Homo sapiens: one gene and its partners. The protein of the gene in region 1 purifies or fractionates together with the protein of each later gene. This does not show direct contact. Each region holds a gene or a part of one and is shown on either strand. Other genes may lie near its edges.

What was found.
Region 2: the proteins of DPF2 (region 1) and BCL7C purify together in Homo sapiens (affinity purification with mass spectrometry; 6 studies listed by BioGRID and IntAct, with this or other methods). This does not show direct contact.
Region 3: the proteins of DPF2 (region 1) and SMARCC1 purify together in Homo sapiens (affinity purification with mass spectrometry; 11 studies listed by BioGRID and IntAct, with this or other methods). This does not show direct contact.

The regions. Positions count from the first base shown.
Region 1 is NC_000011.10:65,343,814-65,350,896, reverse strand, and holds part of DPF2 (zinc finger protein ubi-d4), read right to left. Parts: coding exon 7,060-7,083; intron 6,907-7,059; coding exon 6,828-6,906; intron 6,318-6,827; coding exon of another isoform or gene 6,276-6,317; intron 5,232-6,275; coding exon 5,094-5,231; intron 4,968-5,093; coding exon 4,839-4,967; intron 4,651-4,838; coding exon 4,538-4,650; intron 2,048-4,537; coding exon 1,966-2,047; intron 1-1,965. UniProt on the Homo sapiens protein: Plays an active role in transcriptional regulation by binding modified histones H3 and H4. Is a negative regulator of myeloid differentiation of hematopoietic progenitor cells. Might also have a role in the development and maturation of lymphoid cells.
Region 2 is NC_000016.10:30,891,078-30,897,909, forward strand, and holds the start of BCL7C (B-cell CLL/lymphoma 7 protein family member C), read right to left. Parts: upstream 3,001-6,832; 5' UTR 2,868-3,000; coding exon 2,776-2,867; intron 2,214-2,775; coding exon 2,135-2,213; intron 1,872-2,134; coding exon 1,763-1,871; intron 1,671-1,762; coding exon 1,509-1,670; coding exon of another isoform or gene 1,499-1,508; intron 1-1,498. Other genes in the region: CTF1 (cardiotrophin-1), read left to right, coding at 4,827-4,917. UniProt on the Homo sapiens protein: May play an anti-apoptotic role.
Region 3 is NC_000003.12:47,584,769-47,589,905, forward strand, and holds the end of SMARCC1 (SWI/SNF complex subunit SMARCC1), read right to left. Parts: intron 3,539-5,137; coding exon 3,441-3,538; 3' UTR 501-3,440; downstream 1-500. UniProt on the Homo sapiens protein: Involved in transcriptional activation and repression of select genes by chromatin remodeling (alteration of DNA-nucleosome topology).

The sequences.
Region 1 (7,083 bases):
AGCAATTCTCTTGCCTCAGCCTCTATAGTAGCTGAGATTACAAGCGCACAGCACCACGCCCAGCTAATTTCTCTATTTTTAGTAAAGATGGGGTTTTGCCATGCTGCCCAGGCTGGTCTTGAACCCCTGGGCTCAAGAGATCCCAAAGTGCTGGGATTACAGATGCGAGCCACAGTGCACAGCCAGTTTTTATATTTTTAAGGGGATTTTCTTCAGGCTAGATGCAGTGGTTCACACCTGTAATCCCAGCACTTTGGGAAGCTGAGGTGGGTGGATCACTTGAGCCCAGGAGTTCGAGACCAGCCTGGGCACCATGGCAAAACCCCGTCTCTACTAAAAATACAAAAATTAGCCGGGTGTGGTGGCATGCCTGTAGTCCCAGGTACTCAGGAGGCTGAGGTGGGAGGATTACCAGATTACCTGAGCCCGGGGAAGCAGAGGTTGCAGTGAGCTGAGATCATGCCACTCCACTCCAACATGGGCAACAGAACAAGACACTGTCTCAAAAAAAAAAAAAAAAAAGAAAGAAAGAAAAAGAAAAAGAGAAAAGAAAAGAAAACAAAACAGCTTGCAAGCTATTTAAGCTGGCTGTGGCTGGATGTGGTCCATAGGTTTTAGCTTGTAGCTTGCTGACCCTGACCTAGAACATCTGATACTTCTAGGGGTTGCCCCTCAGCTGCCTTAACACTACAGTGAGGACACTCGGGCCTGCAGCTCTCCACTACCTCGATGTCCCACAGAACTTTAATAGGAAAGCCATTCTGTAACATAGATCATCTGTTTGATGGTTTAAAAAAACAAAACAAAACAAAACATAAACATGCGACTTCTCCCCAAAGCAGATTCATAAACTGGGCCTGACAGAAGCTGAGTACTCCCCTACAGCTGCTAAAGGACTCTTAGACATTGTCAGGGGCCTCATTCTCTAGAGGGGTGACAGCAGTTTGACCGATATGTTACAAGTCAGCTTACATCACACAATGAAACACTTTCTCTTGCCTGTAATGCTGGCCCACATCCTTTGTGCACAGTAACAGCTCCTGGGCATTTGTGTTCTGAGTAAGCTACTGAATTTCTGTTGGCTTTTTTTTTTTTTTCTTTGAGATGGAGTCTCGCTCTGTCGCCCAGGCTGGAGTGCAGTGGTGCGATCTCGGTTCACTGCAAGCTCCGCTTCCCGGGTTCACGCCATTCTCCTGCCTCAGCCTCCTGAGTAGCTGGGACTACAGGCGCCCGCCACCACAGCCGGCTAATTTTTTTGTATTTTTAGTAGAGACGGGGTTTCACCGTGTTAGCCAGGATGGTCTCCATGTCCTGACCTCGTGATCCGCCCACCTCGGCCTCCCAAAGTGCTGGGATTACAGGCTTGAGCCACCGCGCCCAGCTGCTACTCAATTTCTGTACAGGAGGTGTTTATGTACAGAAATCCAGCTGGAAGGGGACTTGTGGAGATGCAACCAATTCTTGGTGCCACCACTGGTTTCAGTGAATAGCTTTAATAAATTTGGACCATTATTACAGTAAGTTATCGGAGAAGCAGACTGACCCATTCAGGCTCCAAAGTCAAGTCCCTTCCCAGTTCAGAAGGGGAAGGGATAGGAAATAAATGCTCAAATCTATCAAATTTCAAGAGTTGACTGCAGAAGTTTCACATCAGATAATCTACCACTTGAGTTTTCTGGACTGGTTGGAAGAAAATAAATCATTCCTTCTGGGTGCCTGATCTCGGCTCAGCATCTGCTTTCTTCTGGGCTGTTGATTTTCTGTTGTAAATGTAGCTGATAATGTGCAAACACTAAACCCTTTAAGTTGAAATGTTAGGAAGGCATTCTAAACTGAGCCAAGGCAAGGTGCTTTACTCCCTAATTTGGAAGAATATGTAAGTGATAACATAAAGAACATAGAACTCAGTATTTTCCAAGTAACTAATAAAGTAATTGTTCTGAGTAAAAGATCTGGGCAACTTACCTTCAGGGGGCTCAGACATGGACGGGGTGAGACAGTACATGTGGTAGCCACGATCGCAGTCATCACAGAAGAGCAACTGGTCCTGAAGTAGGCAAGAGGGAAGAGGATGGGGACTGAATAACTGATGTGCCTCAGGCCACTACAGGACACTGCTATTTCCAAGAGGGGTAGGTAGCAGGTAAGAACAGATGTGAGAATCTTATGTGGGAAACCATGCTGCCCCTCTCCACCGCAGATCCAGTCACTGTCATTTCTCACTTGGGTCCTTTCAGAGCTCCTAATTGATCAAATCACCTCCACTTTTTTTTTTTTTTTTTTTTCCCTAAAGCCCAAGCTCTATGGTATATTTTTTTGAGACAGGGTATTGCTGTCACTCAGGCTGGAGTGCAGTGGTGCAATCACGGCTCACTGCAGCCTTGACCTCCTGGGCCCAAGTGATCCTCCTACCTCAGCCTCTCAAGTAGCTGGGACTATAGGCACACACCACCACACCTAGCTAATTTTTCAATGTTTTTGGAGAGACAAGATCTCCTTACGTTGCCCAGGCTGGTCCTGAAATCCCAGGCTCAAGCAATCCTCCCACCTCAGCCTCCCAAAGTGCTTGGATTACAGGTGTGAGACGCCGTGCCCAGTGACTATTTCTTTTTGAGACAAGGTCTTGCTTTGTTGCCCAGGCTAGAGTGCGGTGGTGTGATCATGGCTCACTGCAGCCTCAAACTCCTGGGTTCAAGCAATCCTCCCACCTCAGCCTGCCAAGTAGCTGGGACTAACGTGTGTGCCACCACACCTGGCTAAGTGTTTATTTTTTTTGTGGAGACAGGATCTCCCTATGTTGCTCAGGCTGGTCTTGAATTCCTGGGCTCAAGTGATCCTCCCGCCTCAGCCTCTCAAGTGTTAGGATTACAGGCATGAGCCTCCATCCTTGTCCCTACAGTCTACCCTCCACACGGCACCCAAAGTCATCTTTTTAAAATATAAGACAAGGGCCAAGCACGGTGGCTCACACCTGTAATACCAGCATTTTGGGAGGCTGAGGCAGGTGGATCACCTGAGGTCAGGAGTTGAAAACTAGCTTGGCCAACATGGTGAAACCCCGTCTCTACTAAAAATTAGCCAGGCGTGGTGGCGGGCGCCTGTAATCCCAGCTACCTGGGAGGCTGAGACAGGAGAATTGCTTGAACCTGGGAGGCAGAGGTTGCAGTGAGCCGAGATTGCGCCATTGTACTCCAGCCTGGATGACAAGAGTAAAACTCCATCTTGAAATAAATAAATAAATATAAAATAAAATATAAGACAAGGCCAGACATGGTGGGTTCATGCCTGTAATCCCAGCACTTTGAGAGGCCAAGGTGGGAGGACTGCTTGAGCTCAGGAGTTTGAGACCAGCTCAGCAATATGGCAAGACCCTGTCTCTACCAAAAATATAAAAAAGTAGCCAGACATGGTGGTGTGCATCTGTGGTCCCAGCTACCCGGGAGGCTGAGGTGGGAGGATTGTACTGCTTGAGCCTGAAGGGAAAGGTTTTAGTGAGCTAAGATCGCGTCACTGCACTCCAGCCTGGATGACAGAGAGACTCTGTCTCAAAATAAATAAATAAATACATAAAGAATAAATAAATAGCTGGGTGCAGTGGCTCACGCCTATAATCCCAGCACTTTGGGAGGCTGAGGCAGGCGGATCACCGGAGGTCAGGAGTTCGATACCAGCCTGGCAAACATGGAGAAACCCCATCTCTACTAAAAATACAAAATTAGCCGGGTGTGGTGGCACGTGTCTGTAATCCCAGCTACTTGGGAGGCTGAGGCAGGAGAATCACTTGAACCCAGGAGGCAGAGGTTGCAGTGAGCTGAGATTGTGCCACTGTACTCCAGCCTGGGCGACAGAGCAAGACTCCATCTCAAAAAAAAAAAGTAAATAAATAAATACATAAATAACCATGTCACTTCCCGAGTAAAACCCTTCAACAGTGTCCTGTTGTACCTAGAATAAAACCCGAGGCCCCAGAGATCTGGCAGTGCTTGCCTCTCTCATCTCATTGCCCACCATACTCTCCCATGCCCTGTCATCTGGCTTGTCCAACATAAGGCCTTGGCGCTGGCTGCTCCTTTCCTGGGATTCCTCTACCTCCAAATCTTGACTGGCTCCTTGGTATCACCAAAATTTCAACACCAGCATCACCCTCCCAGAAGAGCCATACCTGACCATCAAAATAAATCACTTATGCAATTATTCTCTGCCACAGTACTGATTTCGTTTTTTTCATGGCACATTATACAAATCTCATTTACATCCTTGCTTATTGTTGTTCCTGTAAGAATGTAAATCTCATGAGGCAGGGACCTTGTTTGTCTTTAGCATCTTTAGTGACTAGAACAGTGTCTGACATAAAATCAGCACTCAATATATATCTGGCAACAAATCAGAGTTCTGACTGAGATGCTAGGGAGGGGCGTGTGGCATGTGGGAGGGATCCTGCTCCCTTTTTAAAAGAAAGCTCACTTTAGAGGGAACTGTGCAAACAGCAGTAAAAGCCCAGAAGGAGCCATGCTGAGGAGGGGGCGGGGATACACACGTCATTCTCGGAGGTGCCGCAGATATTGCAACATTTGCACTCGATGCACTGCCAGCGGTATGTCTTCACTGCCGCCATCATCACGGGGGTAAATTGGAGGCAAGATGGATGCCCTGTAGTGGGGGAAGTGAGTGAGACAGACAGTCGGAAATGCGGGGGGAAGAGAGGAGCTCCTGCCTGTGGCTACATCTTCTCTTGGTTAGGAAAAGCGAGGTGGGCTGGTTATGACAGCCCTAGAGGCCAGCAAGCCAAGAGCCCCTTGGGGACTGGGCAAAGCAGCAGCCTTCACGGGAAGCAGTACCTGAGCGGCCACAGTCAGAACAGGACACCAGCTCCTCGGGTTGTCCCGTCTTCTTGTTAATCTTTGAGTCCCCCAGGCAGAAGTCACAGTAGTTGTTGGGCAAGGCCAATCCATCAGGACCCTTTTTGGCTACAGAGAGAAAGAGTTTTGATGACACCCATGGGGGTCCCTGAGCCACTCAACACCCATGCAAGGAGTGGTTTTCATAACCAGGCCAACTTCTGCTTGCCCACCACTTCTGACACCTCAGCTTACATTTCTGCTCCTCAGACCTCTGGGAAACAGGAGTGGGTGGTTGAGAGTCTTCCTTGTCCTCGCCCTCCTCCTCAGCCAAGTGGGAGTGGGCATAGTGGTAACTGAGGCCTGGTCGGTTCTTGTAACGTTTTCCACAAACTGAGTGGGAAGAAGATTGCAGAGAAAGGTGTTAGGATACAAGAGTGCCATGTCCCCATCCCTGCAAGCTGTGGGGGCTCCACCTGAGGCAGAGGGCAACCATCCCTTCCCCTAGCAGCTCCACTCTGGGACAGGCCTTGAGTGACGGCCACTTCCCCTCAGCCAGGAGCATCAGGCCGTGGGGCTCTCTAGCTTCTGGGGCTCTTTTCCCTCCTGAACTCCAACCCCATGGCCACCACTGCTCTTCCATGTTGACTTTTGGGGGGCTTAGCCCTTGCCCCATCACCAGTTAGTTGCTCTGGGATATACTAACAGTCTGGGACGCTCCAGGTCAGGAAAGGGAAGGATATTCCTATATCTTTGGGGTGGCAGGAAGGGGGAAAAGTGGATAAGACTCCAAACTTTTTTACCCCTCAGTAAATGTGGGAGGCTCATGCTACCCCACACACCATGGAGCCCATCTCCCCTGAATGTGGGTAAACAAGCAGGGGATGGGTTTCTTGGGGATAGCCTATCAATGAAGCCAGTTGGGCAGTTGGTCCCCAAAGAAATTCAAGCACACTCCCATGTAATTGCCCTGTCCAGGCCTGCCAATCAGCAAGGAAAGCAGATCCCCATGAGGCATTTTGTCATCTTGAGAAGTAATACCAAGAAGGGCAAGGGGGCCAGCAGGAAAGGAGTGGGGAGAGAGGATGGCAGGAGGAGGTGGTGGGGCAGTGGGGAACATGAGCTGACCACCAGCTGCCTGGTCTGGGGAGGGAGCGGAAGGGTCTGATTGTAATGGGCTCCTGATAATGCTTCTGAAGCCACCCCATGCACTGGGCCGAGCAGCTCTAGGAGCAGGTTTGTGGGAAACAAGCAGTGGTAAAGGCAGCCTTCAGGACTTTGAGGAGTAGAGCACAGCAGAAATTCCACTGCTCCTACCCCCATGCCATTCCAGAGATTTTAAAGCTAGCATCCCAGGAAATGAGAAAGGCAGGAGGAACAAGGGAAGAGGGAAAAAGGGAAAGGAAAACCACAAGTCTGAAAAGTTGAGAGAGCTACCTCTCTGGGGCGCTTTCGAGGTATGCTTTTGTTTGAAACTATCTGAAAGACAGAAAGAAAAGTCATGAGAAGAAGGCCTTGATACACTTGAGACAGGAGCAGCAGCAGCAGGAAAGCAGAGCAAACGAGAGAGAAACCCCAGCGGCGATGGTGCTCCCAGGGTGGAGGGACAGAAGTGGGGCAAGGCAGACAGAAAGAAAAAGAGAACAGACGTTGAAAAACTCAGTGTCAGACCCCTGGGGCCCTGGCTTAACTGAGGCCAGGAGACCTGCAGGCCATCTGTTGAGAGGCCAACCCTGCCTGCTGTGGCCCCCACAAGCAACCCTACCCCAGAGGATGGCAGAAATCTTTCCCAGAGCATGCAGGTCCCACCCGTCATATAGCAGGGACCCAGGCCTCCCAGGGGTCTCAGACGGAAGCAGTCAGCAGGCAGGACAAGAGCCCAGGTTTGTTTTAATACTCTGGGCAAAAACACAACCCTCCCTCCTCTCATATCCAGAGCAGGAGCTGGGTCCAAGGCAAGGTCTACCCACCCACTTGTGAGGCACTCACTGTCACAGGCATAGGGCTTATCCCGGTCCTCCAGGATGGAAGCATCCAGCTTCTTACGGGCACTGCCCACACCCTTACCCTGCCAAGAAGAGCAAAGAGACACCCTTATTTTGGTAGCTGGGCCTGAGGAGTTAGACTCTTTTGGAAGTGGCCGCTAATCTCACTTGAAATAAAATAAGGAATTCCCTAGGCCACCCTGTCCCAAGATGCAGGCAGCACGCTGGCCCCTCACCTTGGATTTCCCCTTTCCCCGACG
Region 2 (6,832 bases), on another chromosome or scaffold:
AGAATCGCTTGAACCTGGGAGGCAGAGTTTGCAGTGAGCCAAGATCGTACCACTGCTCTCCAGCCTGGGCAACAGAGCAAGACTTCATCTCAAAAAAAAAAAAAAAAAAGGCTGGGCGTGGTGGCTCGTAATCCCAGCACTTTGGGAGGCCAAGGCGGGCAGATCACCTGAGGTCAGGCGTTTGAGACCAGCCTGGCCAACATGGCGAAACCCCAACTCTACTAAAAATACAAAACCAGCCGAGCATGGTGGTTCATGCCTATATTCCCAGCTACCCAGGAGGCTGAGGCAGGAGAATTGCCTGAACCCAGGAGGTGAAGGTTGCAGTGAGCCAAGATTGTGCCGTCGCACTCCAGCCTTGGCAAGAGCGAAACTCTCTCAAAGAAAAGAAAAAGAGAAAAGAAAAAAACCCAACCACGTAAAGTGTTTACCAGGGCACCTAGCACACAGTAAGAGCTCAATAAATACTAGCTGTTGTTATTCCTATTATTGTTAATCACCCCTATGACTATCACTATTATTTATTCACTCAACAGATATTTACTGAGCACCTACTATGTGTCCCATATTATTCTGAGGATACAGTAGTGAACAAGATCACATAGGGCCAGGCACAGTGACTCACGCCTATAATCCCAGCACCTTGGGAGGCTGAGACAGGAGGATCATTTCAGGCCACGAGTTCAAAACCAACCTTGGCAACATAGCGAGACCCTACCTCTACAAAAAATTTAAGAATTGGCTGGGCATGGTGGCACACACCTGAGTCCCAGCTATTTGGGAGGCTGGGGCCAGAGGATCCCTTGAGCCCAGGAGTTTGAGGCTGCAGTGAGCTATGATTGCACCAGAGTACTCCAGCGTGGGTGACAGAGACCTTGTCTCTAAAAAAAAGGGGGGGGAGGGCCGGGTGTGGGTGTGATGGCTCACACCCGTAATCCCAGCACTTTGGGAGGCTGAAGGTGGAGGACTGCTTGAGCAAGTGAGTTTGAGACCAGCCTGGGCAACATGGTGAAACCTTATCTCTACAAAAAATACAAAAATTAGCCAGGTGTGGTGGCATATGCCTGTGGTCCCAGCTACTTGGGAGGCTGAGGCGGGAGGATCGCTTGAGCCCAGGAAGTTCAAGGCTGCAGTGAGCTATGATCACACCACTATACTACTCCAGCCTGGGTGACAGAGCGAGACCCTTTCTCAAAAAAAAAAAAAAAAAAAAAAAAAAAAAAGGATCAATATGGGCCCAACATTCAGGAAACTGACATGAGAGTGAGGAGAAAGATAAACTAGTAAAAAATTAATTTACATGAAAATCTCAGACAGTGATATGTCTGTATAGATTCTAAGAGACCAGAGGAATGAGACTGTAGCTACAGGGAGATTCTGCAGGAGTCGGAAGGCGCCTTGAGGAGGGTGCACAAGACGGGGAGCAGGTATAGGGATGAGCTGGTAGGTTAGACTCTGGAGAAGACAGGACTTAGAGGAGAGAGCTCCTGGGAGGTACCTGGTCCTACCTCTCTCTTGGCCCAGCCGTGGGGGCTGAGCCTCCTCAGGGACCCCTTCTGGGGGTCCGGCAGGTGACACAGGGCGGCTGGGCTGGGGGGTGCCCCCAGGACTGGGCTCTGTGCCCTTTTGCAGGGAACCTTCCGAATGGAAACTCTGGTTGCTGTTCTCATCTGCGGGAGCAAGAGCCGAGATGGTTGGCCTGAGATCCCTAGTACACTCCTTCAGTCCCCACAGCCCCCCGCGTTTCAGGATCCCTACCTACCATTAAGATCCAGCAGGATGAGAGGGCCACCCCCTCGGGGACTGGCGCCCCTGCCCCGACGTTCCCGGCCACGGGATCTCTCTGCCCCGCCACCTGCCCGCCTTCGCTCCTGGGGGTTAGAGGATTAGGGTCAGAGCTCTTGGAAAGCCCCACCATACACCTAAGGAAACTGAGGCACTGAGAAGCAAAAGGGCTCAAACTCAGGGGGTGTGGAGCAGAAAAGAGGGCAAAAGGGGAGGAGCTGCTAATGATGGTTCCCGTCTGTCCTGCTGCATCTGAGGTCTCGGGGAGCTGGAGGTAGAGGTCAGCGTGGGGAGGAACTTGCCTGAGGTTGCACAGATGCAGGGCCTTGTGGGAATGGGGGTTGCTCACCTCCTCCTGGGGATCCACCACTGGCACCCACTTGAAGATACGAAGGGAAGTGTCGCCCACAGTCACCCATCGCTTCTCCCTGTGGGAGGGTGGGGGGCTGGGTCAGAGAGGCCTGAGGGGAGACCCACCCCCCTAGGAGCTGGACACATCTGGGGGTACCTGCAGAGGTTGAGGAGGCACAGGAGGATAGCAACAGTTTTGCTAATGGGGCATAGTTACATGGAGGAAGAGAGTCCTGCAAACCCCAGGGCATAGGCGGTGGGTGCCTCTAGAGAGAGGATATGATTTGGGGCCCTGGCTCTGCGGACCCCTGGGGCACACATGGGGGGCGTGGCTATGGGCCTGGCCCGGGATCAGAGCCCTGCAGATCCTGGGGCGCACCTGCAGGAGGGGTGTCAAAGCTTTAGGGGGCGGGGCACAAGAGGGGGCTCCCGCTCTGGGAGGACACGGCTGGGGATCACGCTTTGTAGACCCCCAGGAGTAGCCAGGCGAACGGGGACAGAGCCCTGTGGATCCAGGGCAAAGCTAGTGGGTGGAGATACACCGAACACCCGGGGCCCAGAGCTGGCGAGGGCAGCGTAGACGCCTTTGGTGCTGGTGGTCCCGCTGTGTCCCGTCCCTGGCCCCCGAGCAGCGCTCACCATCTCCGGACCTTCTCGATGGTCGCCATCACCTTCTTGATGTCATCCTTGGCCCGGCTCCGGGTCTCGGCCCGTACAGTCCGGCCGGCCATGCTGGCGGGGCTGGGGCCGGGGCCGAGCCCGCGGCGGGGCCGCCTCCCGTCCGGCGGGCTCAGGCTCCGCGCCAGGCCCGGGCGCCGCGCTCTCGGCCTGCCGTCCCCCCTGGAGTTGGCCGCGCCCTCTCTCGTCCCCAACGCCTCCGCAAGTCCCCGCCCCGTTTCCTGCCGCCGCGCCCCGCCCCGGCCTGTCCCCGGAGCGGCCCGGTGGCGCGGGCGGCCAGAGCCCAGGCCTGGAAGCCCGGCCGGCCCCGCCCCGACCCGGGCCCGCCCCCTTGGAGCGCCTGGACGCTCAGCGCCCCCTGCCCGCCGCCGAGAGCGGGAGTTGGGGACGGACGCGCGAGTTGGGGACGGAGAGCGGGAGTTGCGACCGGACGCGCGAGGCAGGGCCGAGGCCGTGTGTTCAGACCACGTGGGCGCGGGGTGCGCGACAGGGTCTGTGTCCTGCGCTGCGTGAGCCGCGGTGGGTGTCCGCGAAACGCTGTGTGTGGAGTGCGTGCGTGTGTCCGCCCTCGCCAGGCTGTTGGTCTACACCGCCCAACTTACTCAGTCATCCATTCATTCAACAGTCTTGTTAACTGAGTGCCAATTACGCTCCAGGCGCTGCGAATACGAGTGGGTCTCCACCACCAGAATGGCTAAAGTGAAAAAGACCGCACCGTGTGGAGGCGAGAAAGTAGAGCGACTGGACCTCTCTTGTATTTCTGGGGGAGTGTAAATTGGTAGAGACATTTTGGAAAACTGGCAGTTTTCTAATGAAGCCGAACATATGCCACCTCTGTGATCCAGCAGTTCCACTCCTAGGCTGTCAACACCCAGCAGAAATGTGTAGGTGTGAGCATCAAGAGGGTGCATGGGAATGTTCAGAGCCCTTTCATAACAGCCCCAAACTGGAAATAACCCATCAACAGAATGGAAAATGAATGATGCCCTACTCACTACCATGCACATAGACACAGCAACGGGATTGACATGCCCGGCTACACACAGCAACATAGACAAGTCGCATGATGAAATCTTGAGTGACAGAAGCCAAATGCAACAGTACATACTAGATGGTTCCAGGTGTATTACGTTCAGAACCAGACAAAACTAATTTATAGTGCACCAAAGTCAAGATAGTGATCGCCCTTAGGGTTGGGAGGGGACGAGGGGAGAGCTTCTGGGAGCTGATCCAGTTCTGTTGTGTAATCTGGTGCTGGTTCCCTGGGCATATGTATTCTGTGAAAATCCATCACATGACTTAAATAAAATGTACATTACTTAAATAAAATGAGTGTGTCTTTGTTGACTTTATTTGAGGCTGGCTTGTCAGCAGATAAGACCATGTCAAAATTTGTGCTGCTGTTGTGTGTGTGTGTGTGTTTCAAGGTGTGGCTGTTGTGTCTGTGAATTTGGGCGTGACCATGTCCAGAGGTTAAGGGTATAAGGGGTTAGGAGCATGGTTAAGACAGCATTTTTTTGAGCCAAGCTGCTTAGGTAAAATCCCAGTTGTGCCACACCTAACTGTGTTACCCTGGACAAGTCACTTCTCTCTATTCCGCATCTATAACACAGGAGTTAGTTAATGTGCATATGGCTCTTAGAACAGTGCCCAGCACATGGTAAATGCCCAATAAATATTTACAGTTAATACACATGTGATTGTGGGCCCTACCAATTGTCTGGCTCAATTCTATCTGCTGTGCCCTCTCCAGTTAAACTCTTTCTTCTTTTATTCCAGCAATTGCTCACGGCAATACACACACCCACTCACACGAACACACGCACACACATGCACGCGCACATGCACACACGCGCACACCTGCACACTCACACGCACACAAATCCACTCGCACACACGCATGCTCACACGCACACACGTCCGCATGCACGCACACACGCAGACACACGCAAGCGCACACACACACGGGCCTCCTCGTCTTCATTCACAAACCCCATTAGCTTCTGTTGTCTATGGGCTTCCTCGACAGACCGCGAGCCCCTCGCGGGGGCCAGAAACCAAGTATGGATCATCCCTATGTGCCTTCCTTTCCGTCTACACCAGGTTAATGGGGTTGACGTATGGGTGTGACTTCCTGTCCAGGTCTCTGTAGCTTGTTCTCCTGGGGGTGGGGGGCGGGGTGTGATTGTTACTAGGCCTGCTAAGAAGAGGAGAGCAGTGTATCTGTCTCCCTCCTGGTGGGTGTGACAATGAGATTGGAAGCCATCTAAGATAGGCCAGGAGATGTATGTCTGGACAAACATGCCCCAAGCCTGACGGCCCCCATCGTAGCCTCCCTCGCAAGCCGCGCCCCAGACTAGAGAGAGGGCCTGCGCATTCCTGTCCTGCCAGTCCGGCAGTTCCCTCTCCTGTCTCCTCAGCTTTACACCCAAAGCAGCCGCTGCCTCAGGTCCAAGCCTGAGCCCGCGGCAGAACATTGGGCTGCCTCCCAGGCCCTGACACCCCCAGCCCCGAGGTCCTGTCCACCCGGCAGACAACTTGCCTTCCCCCTCGGGCCCCTTCCCCCACTAGGCCCCACGGACGAGGAGCTGAGCTCAGGGCCAAGGAATCCTGTCTCAAAAGGGGGGGTAGGATGAAATGTTTGGGGTCTGGGCTCTGATTGGCTGCGCCCGGGCCACGCCCCCAGCCCTTTCCCCTTTCTCCCCCCTCGAAAGGGGGGCGTGAAGGGAGCCGGGATCAGCCAGGGGCCAGCATGAGCCGGAGGGAGGGAAGTCTGGGTAAGGGGCTGAGGGACCGGACGCCGGGTCGCTGAGGGGCGCAGGAGTCAGAGGGATTGGGAGCTGGGGGTCTGGGTTTCCGCCACCCCCGGGTCCGGGAGGGGAGCGGCCTTGGCGGGGAAGGGCAGGGCTCCGGTGTCAGGTAACGAGTGAGCGGGTGAGTTGTGAGAAACAGCAGGCGCTAGGGTTTAGAGGAGGCCTGGGGCTGAGGTTTCAGGGACCTGGGCTCAGGGCTTAGATCACCGGTTCGAGTACACCCAGGGGGAGGACTGGGGTCGGGGCTGGGGCAGGACCCCTGCGTCCACTGAGTCTCGGGAAAGAATCAGAGCTGGGGGGCTGAAGGAAGGGGTAGAGTAAGGGAAGGCAGTCTTGGAGTCACAGGAAGTAGTGAGTGACAACAGGAGACGAAAGTCTGGGCTGCTGAGGATCGCGACTGGTGCTGGGAAACTTCGGGGGTGGGGCGGGGGCGGGGCACCGGGTCAGGACTACATTCCCCAGCACGCATCGGGCGCGCGCTGTGCGTTTCGGGAAATGGAGTCCCTCCCGGGGCGCCAGACACTGGCTCTTGCGGACCTTGATTCGCTGACTAGCCAGGCCAGCGCCTTGCATGGATGGGGCATCAGGGAGAGAAATGGAAATGGAAGTCAGTCTCCCTATCTGTAAAATGGGCCTTCAAGGCACATTTTGATATGAAGTTCTGTACTTCGATGATGTTGAAGTCCACTAGCAGTCACTGAGGTAGAAATATGTAAGCCCTGTCTTCAAAGGGCTCTCAGGCTAAGGCAGATACACACAGAAAAGCCGTTAAAAGAGCTACCCTGGAACTCATGCAAATGGCCTTAAGTCAAAGGAAGGAGTTCGTTTATAAAGGAGAAGTGATTCTGGAGGCTTCACTGAGGAGGCAGTACAGTCATGCACTGCATAACAACATTTGGTCAACAGGTGGACCGCACAGACAATGGAGGTCCCATAAGATTCTATGCATTTTTAGCCTGGGCAACATGGCGAAACCCTGTCTCTACAAAAAAATACAAAAATTAACCGGGCATGGTGGCGCATGCCTGTAGTCCCAGCTACACAGGAGACCCAGGCGGGAGGATCGCTTGAGCCCAGGAGGTCGAGGCTGCAGTGAGCCAAGATTGCACCACTGCACCCCATCCTGGGCGAAAGAGCAAGACTCCGTCTCTCTCTCTCTCTCTCTTTCTCTTTTGGGATGGAGTCTTTCTCTGTTGCCAGGCTGG
Region 3 (5,137 bases), on another chromosome or scaffold:
TGGGAGGCTAAGGTGGGAAGATCACTAGAGTCCAGGAGGTTGAGGCTGCAGTGAGTTATGATCGTGCCACTGTACTCTAGCCTGGGTGACAGAGCAAAACCCCACCTCTAAAAAAATAAACTTAATTTTTTGAGATGGAGTCTCGCTATCACCCAGGCTGGAGTGCAGTGGCGTGATCTCAGCTCACTGCAACTTCTGCCTCCTGAGCAGCTGGGATTACAGGTGCGTGCCACCATGCCTGGCTAATTTTTTGTTTTTACTAGAGACAGGGTTTCACCATGTTGGCCAGGCTGGTCTTAAACTCCTGACCTCAGGTATCAGCCCACCTCGGCCTCCCAAAATGCAAGTGCTGGGATTACAGGCGTGAGCCACTGCACCCAGCCTAAACTATTCTTAATTGAATGTGGGGGAATTACTCCATGGTAAGGACCCAGGGAACCTATGTAAGACTGGTTGATCTTGCATGTCCTCCAATATTCTAAAAATAATTCACACACAAGTTTATAAACCAGTCTTTAGTTTCGATAAAGGATTAACCTCCCCCAACATCCTTGAGAAAGTATAGGAATCTGGTGAGACCCAGCTGGCTTTGGCTCTCTTTATTAGAGGCACACCTTCGTGAAGAGCAGGGCGTTCATCTCATGGCAGACACAGAATCCTCTTCTTTTGCTTCACTCGATTTATAAGCATCCTGAAAACAATCACTTCTTTTTTTCTGCACAGGGTTTATATCTGTGAGTACCCAAAAGCTGTCCCCCAAGGTTCACAGAATCTTCTGCCCTCAAGGCCTGCCTCCAACTTGGGACTGTCTAAACTGCATCCTGACAAACATTATCCCATTCACCAAGCAAAGCTATTTCTCACACCTGGAGGTGCCAGGATGTTGGCCATCATTTTTGGAGAACTTCCACTCATTTTCACTTTGACCATGCAAATGAACAGTGGGTGAGGTACCCTCAAAATGTATGTTCCTTACACATCATGAAGGTGGGCAGTCGGGAAGGAAGCCCGAGTCACAGAATTTTAACTGCTGATCAAACCAAGACCAGGTGGGGCCAAATGTTTAGGTTCTTCATAGGATATATGAAGAAACTGGTGTATGAATGCAGAGAATGGGACTAGAATCCAGAAATGGTGTTCCATTTATTCACTGAAAAAGAGAGAGATTAGGCCTTCTTCATTCATTTTCTCCATTCTTGCCAAACTCCCTCCCCTCATTTTTTCCAAAATAACAACACACTGAGAAACATGTTTGTACAAAAACCACATATTATTCCCCCCCCTCACAAAATCAGGTGGCTGAATTACAGGAATAAAACCAGATCAAAGACATGAAAAGAAAAAGCCACCACTTATACTGAAATATAACAGTGTTAAGAATTCAGGTATTTTGTAGAATTATTACTATAGTAAAAATATTTCCACCTGGATCTTTTAAATTTGAAAGTGATCACATTAAAGACCTGAGGTTACAAGGGACCACAGTATGAACCAGAATTCCATTTTCCTTCTCGGACTCCAGGGGAAAAAAGAAGTATTTGGAATGAGTTTCCTTTGGGAAAGACTGGCAGGAAGTAGGTAAAACCCTGGCCATTGTCAAAAGGCACTGGGGTCTTTCTGGAGCCAAATGCATTGGAACTAAGCTCCAGTAGGAATAAACTCATTCTCATTTCCACTCCCAAGAGTCCAGAACAAAAACAAAAGGACCAAGGTCTCCTCGGTTCCCGTATTCCAGTACTCTGATGGTGACCAGGGACACCTGGTTAGAGGCAAACCTGAGGGTTTGAAAGGCAAATCTCAATTGTGGTTTTATTTTTTTGCTTTCTGATATTAAGGAAAAAAGTTCTCAAGTGTTTTATAAACACCTCCCTATACCCTCTCATATGTAAAGCTTTAGAAAATATATAGAAAAAGATATCCAAAAGATGTCCACCTTGCATTCTAAATAATGAAACTGCCACTTGAGAATGTGAAGTGAGAAAGCCAGGCGCTTTGGAAACCAAGCTCTACCAAAAACACCCTTTCCCCACACATGGAAGGACAGAAGGGAGGGAAGGACAAGAGGAAAAAACCGGGAACTCTCAAGTCACTTATCAGCAGGGGTAAATACGAGCTCAAATTAAGGCATTTTTGTGGCTTGTCCTCTGGAATGGCATTCTACCCTCCCAGCCTGAGCACCCCAAACCTCAAAGCATGATGCTCTGACTGCCAAGTGAGTTCCTTGTTACCCTCAGCATCTCTTTGAAAACCCTGTGATAGATGGAATGTGAGATCTCAGAAATGGAAGGGAGAAGGTATAAGGAGCTAATATCCTGCTTCACTTTTCCCGTCCCATCCTAACCTTAAAAGTACCGGTTGACGAAATTCCACTCCCTGGCTACTGTAACAAGAGGTAGTTTGGGGACTTGTACCCCCAGCCATCCTAACCAAGTTTCATGAGCTAAAATATTTAGCACTATCTACTTTTTTTTTTCTTTTAAAGGGTTTTTTAAAGAGGGAGAAAAAAATGCACACAAAGCAGTGAATAGTAGGCTAGACTCATTGGGGGTAATTACCCTAGACTCCTAACTTTCCAGGCTAGTTGAGGAAACTAAGGAATGCCTCCCAATATTCCAACCCTCAAAGCTCACACTGCCCCCAGAAAAACAAAACACTCACCCCCAATCCAATGAATCATCTGCATAGAAAACCAGAGCCAGCAGGCCTAGGGAAGGAGCGGATGTTTGTGCCCTCCTCTAGCACATACTAGTTCAGTGGTATGTTCTGCCAGGCAGTGTGGAGGCCCTCAGAGGCCTCACTAGGGAATAAAATCACTGAGGTTCTCCTTCCACATCTCGTTTAATTTTCACAAATTTGTGTGTGGCAAAAGTCTCAAACTTTACCATCAGCACCATTCTTAGCTCAGAAAAGCAGAAATAAGGTCACTTATAATGCCTTAAGGTTTGTCCCCTGTGGCTATTCCCCCCCTTCTGCCCATCATTATTTTTTGGTTCCTATTAACTTAGGATGCTCTCCTTTAAAACAATAATAACAGAAAGATAAAAAGATAATGATTATATAGCATTATCCATAGAAGCATAAGACAAAGCAAAAAACTGCAAGAGAGCAAAAATGGTAAAGACATAGCATGCTAAAGTTGACAGGACCTGCAGAGAAACTGTCAGCTTACTCCCACACCAGGACAGGGGAGATGCAGGTTATTTTAAGGATGACCAGGGCACACTGTCACTACAGGTTTCCCCTTGAGTGTTGGCTGAGGACCCAACACAAAAAGTGTCAGAGAGAGGGGTGGTAAGAGGAGTGGGGAGGCACGGGACACGTGCTTGGAGCTGTGAGAAGAAAAATCCTGAAAGAAACCCAAGAAAGTTGAGGAACACAAGTCTTGTCATCCCCACTCCAGCTCATGGTGGTGGGCGTGGAGGTTCCCTGCATCTTCCAGGCTAAGGAGCAGCTGAGGCTGGCGGGCCAGGAGCAGGAGGCGGAGGGACCCCATCTGCAGGTGGTGGTGGCGGTGGCTGCTGCTGTGGTGGAGGGGGATCTGCAAACATATCCAAGAGTAACTCGTTATTGCTGGAAATACAAGAGACTCAGGAAAGAGCCTATTCAGTGAAAAAAAGACACAGAAGTCCTTTCCTTAGTGGCAGGCAACCAATGCACCCTGTGAGGCATTGATTCCACTGTGGTCTATGCAAGTCAATTCCTTCTGAACCTCTAGGGCACTGCTCAAGTTGCTTAGCCTAACCCTAGTGGCTGGGGAGTGGGAGGTGTCTGAATTTCCCCCACCCTCCTTCCAGGCCAACTCCTTCCAAGAATCGCTCCAGGCCCTTTCAGAAGTTAATTTTGATTGCATTGTATTTCAAGGGTTCTAATTTTATTTCTTCAGTTAAAAAATAAGCTCCTTCCTGGGACAGTTCTATGTCTTGTTTTTCTTCCCGCCCCCCCCCCGCCCCCACAGTCCCTAGCCTAGCTGGGCACAAAATAGATTATCAATAAATTCTTGCTATATAAATGTCTCCACCAGGGCCAGAGAGCTTCACTTGAGGCAGTTGCTGACAAACTGGATAGTCCAGGGAGGCCTCCACAGCTCCTGAACTGCAGTCCTTCGATTTTTGGCCCAAACTAGGTCATGTCCTGAAGGGAACAATTAGTATGAGTGTCTGGGACTCTTTCCTATTTCAACTTTACCTGCTTTAGTGTACAAAAGAACCCGAGAGATCATTTAATCCGGGTTTTAAAAACCCCTAGATCTTGTCAGAATTGAAAACATATGAAATAAAGTGCAGCATTGCTCACCAATCAATTCACCCAACTCTATGCCCAAGAGGTTTCTACCAAACCCTTAAGACTCTTGAAAGCATTCTGAAGCTCACTGATCTAATCCCTTGTGTCATCTTTCAGTGGAGGAAATGAAGGGCTGAAGTGGAGAAGCAACTCATCCAGTGTGGCCTACCTAGTATCCTAGAACCAATTCACATGGTTCAGAATTCCAGAGCACTGACTTATGGCAGGAACCAGGCAGCAGGTGGGAAGGTTCCACCTGAAACCCTCCACATTCTCAAGGAGCTCTACTGAGGTCCCTTTGGGAAGGAATCCTGAAGTACAAAACATGGGTGACCAGCAGGACATGACAGTGGTAAATTGGTAAAGACCAGTGATACTACCTCTGCAATAGGGATGGAAAACTGGTCAACTCTCTTGATAGGCGAGCTCATTTATGTATGGTCCACAGGGTGGCTTGGCAAACATTTTCTTGCCAAGAAAAAGAGGTACCTACTGTACTACACAACCACTGACCACTAGCTTAAGGGAGATAATTTTAAAAAGTTGTTGTGATCTTATATACCTAGATAAATTAGTGTCTTTCTTCTGTGCACCTACTTTGTCCCAGACTCTGGGGGCCAGAGAAGAGTCAGACATGTCTCTGTCCATGAAGCCTCCCAGAGTATTAGAGTGTACTTAAGGCACATCACAGTCTCATGTAACCTTTGGTAAGTTCTATATGCCTTCATTTGCTAAGTTCTATCCAAGTTTTCATTTCTTGTTTTCTCAACTAAAGCTCCTACAGAGCAAGAATTCTTATGCTTCCTATCTCTCTGAACTATAAATAGTAGCTAAACTTTTGGCCACACGTGAACTT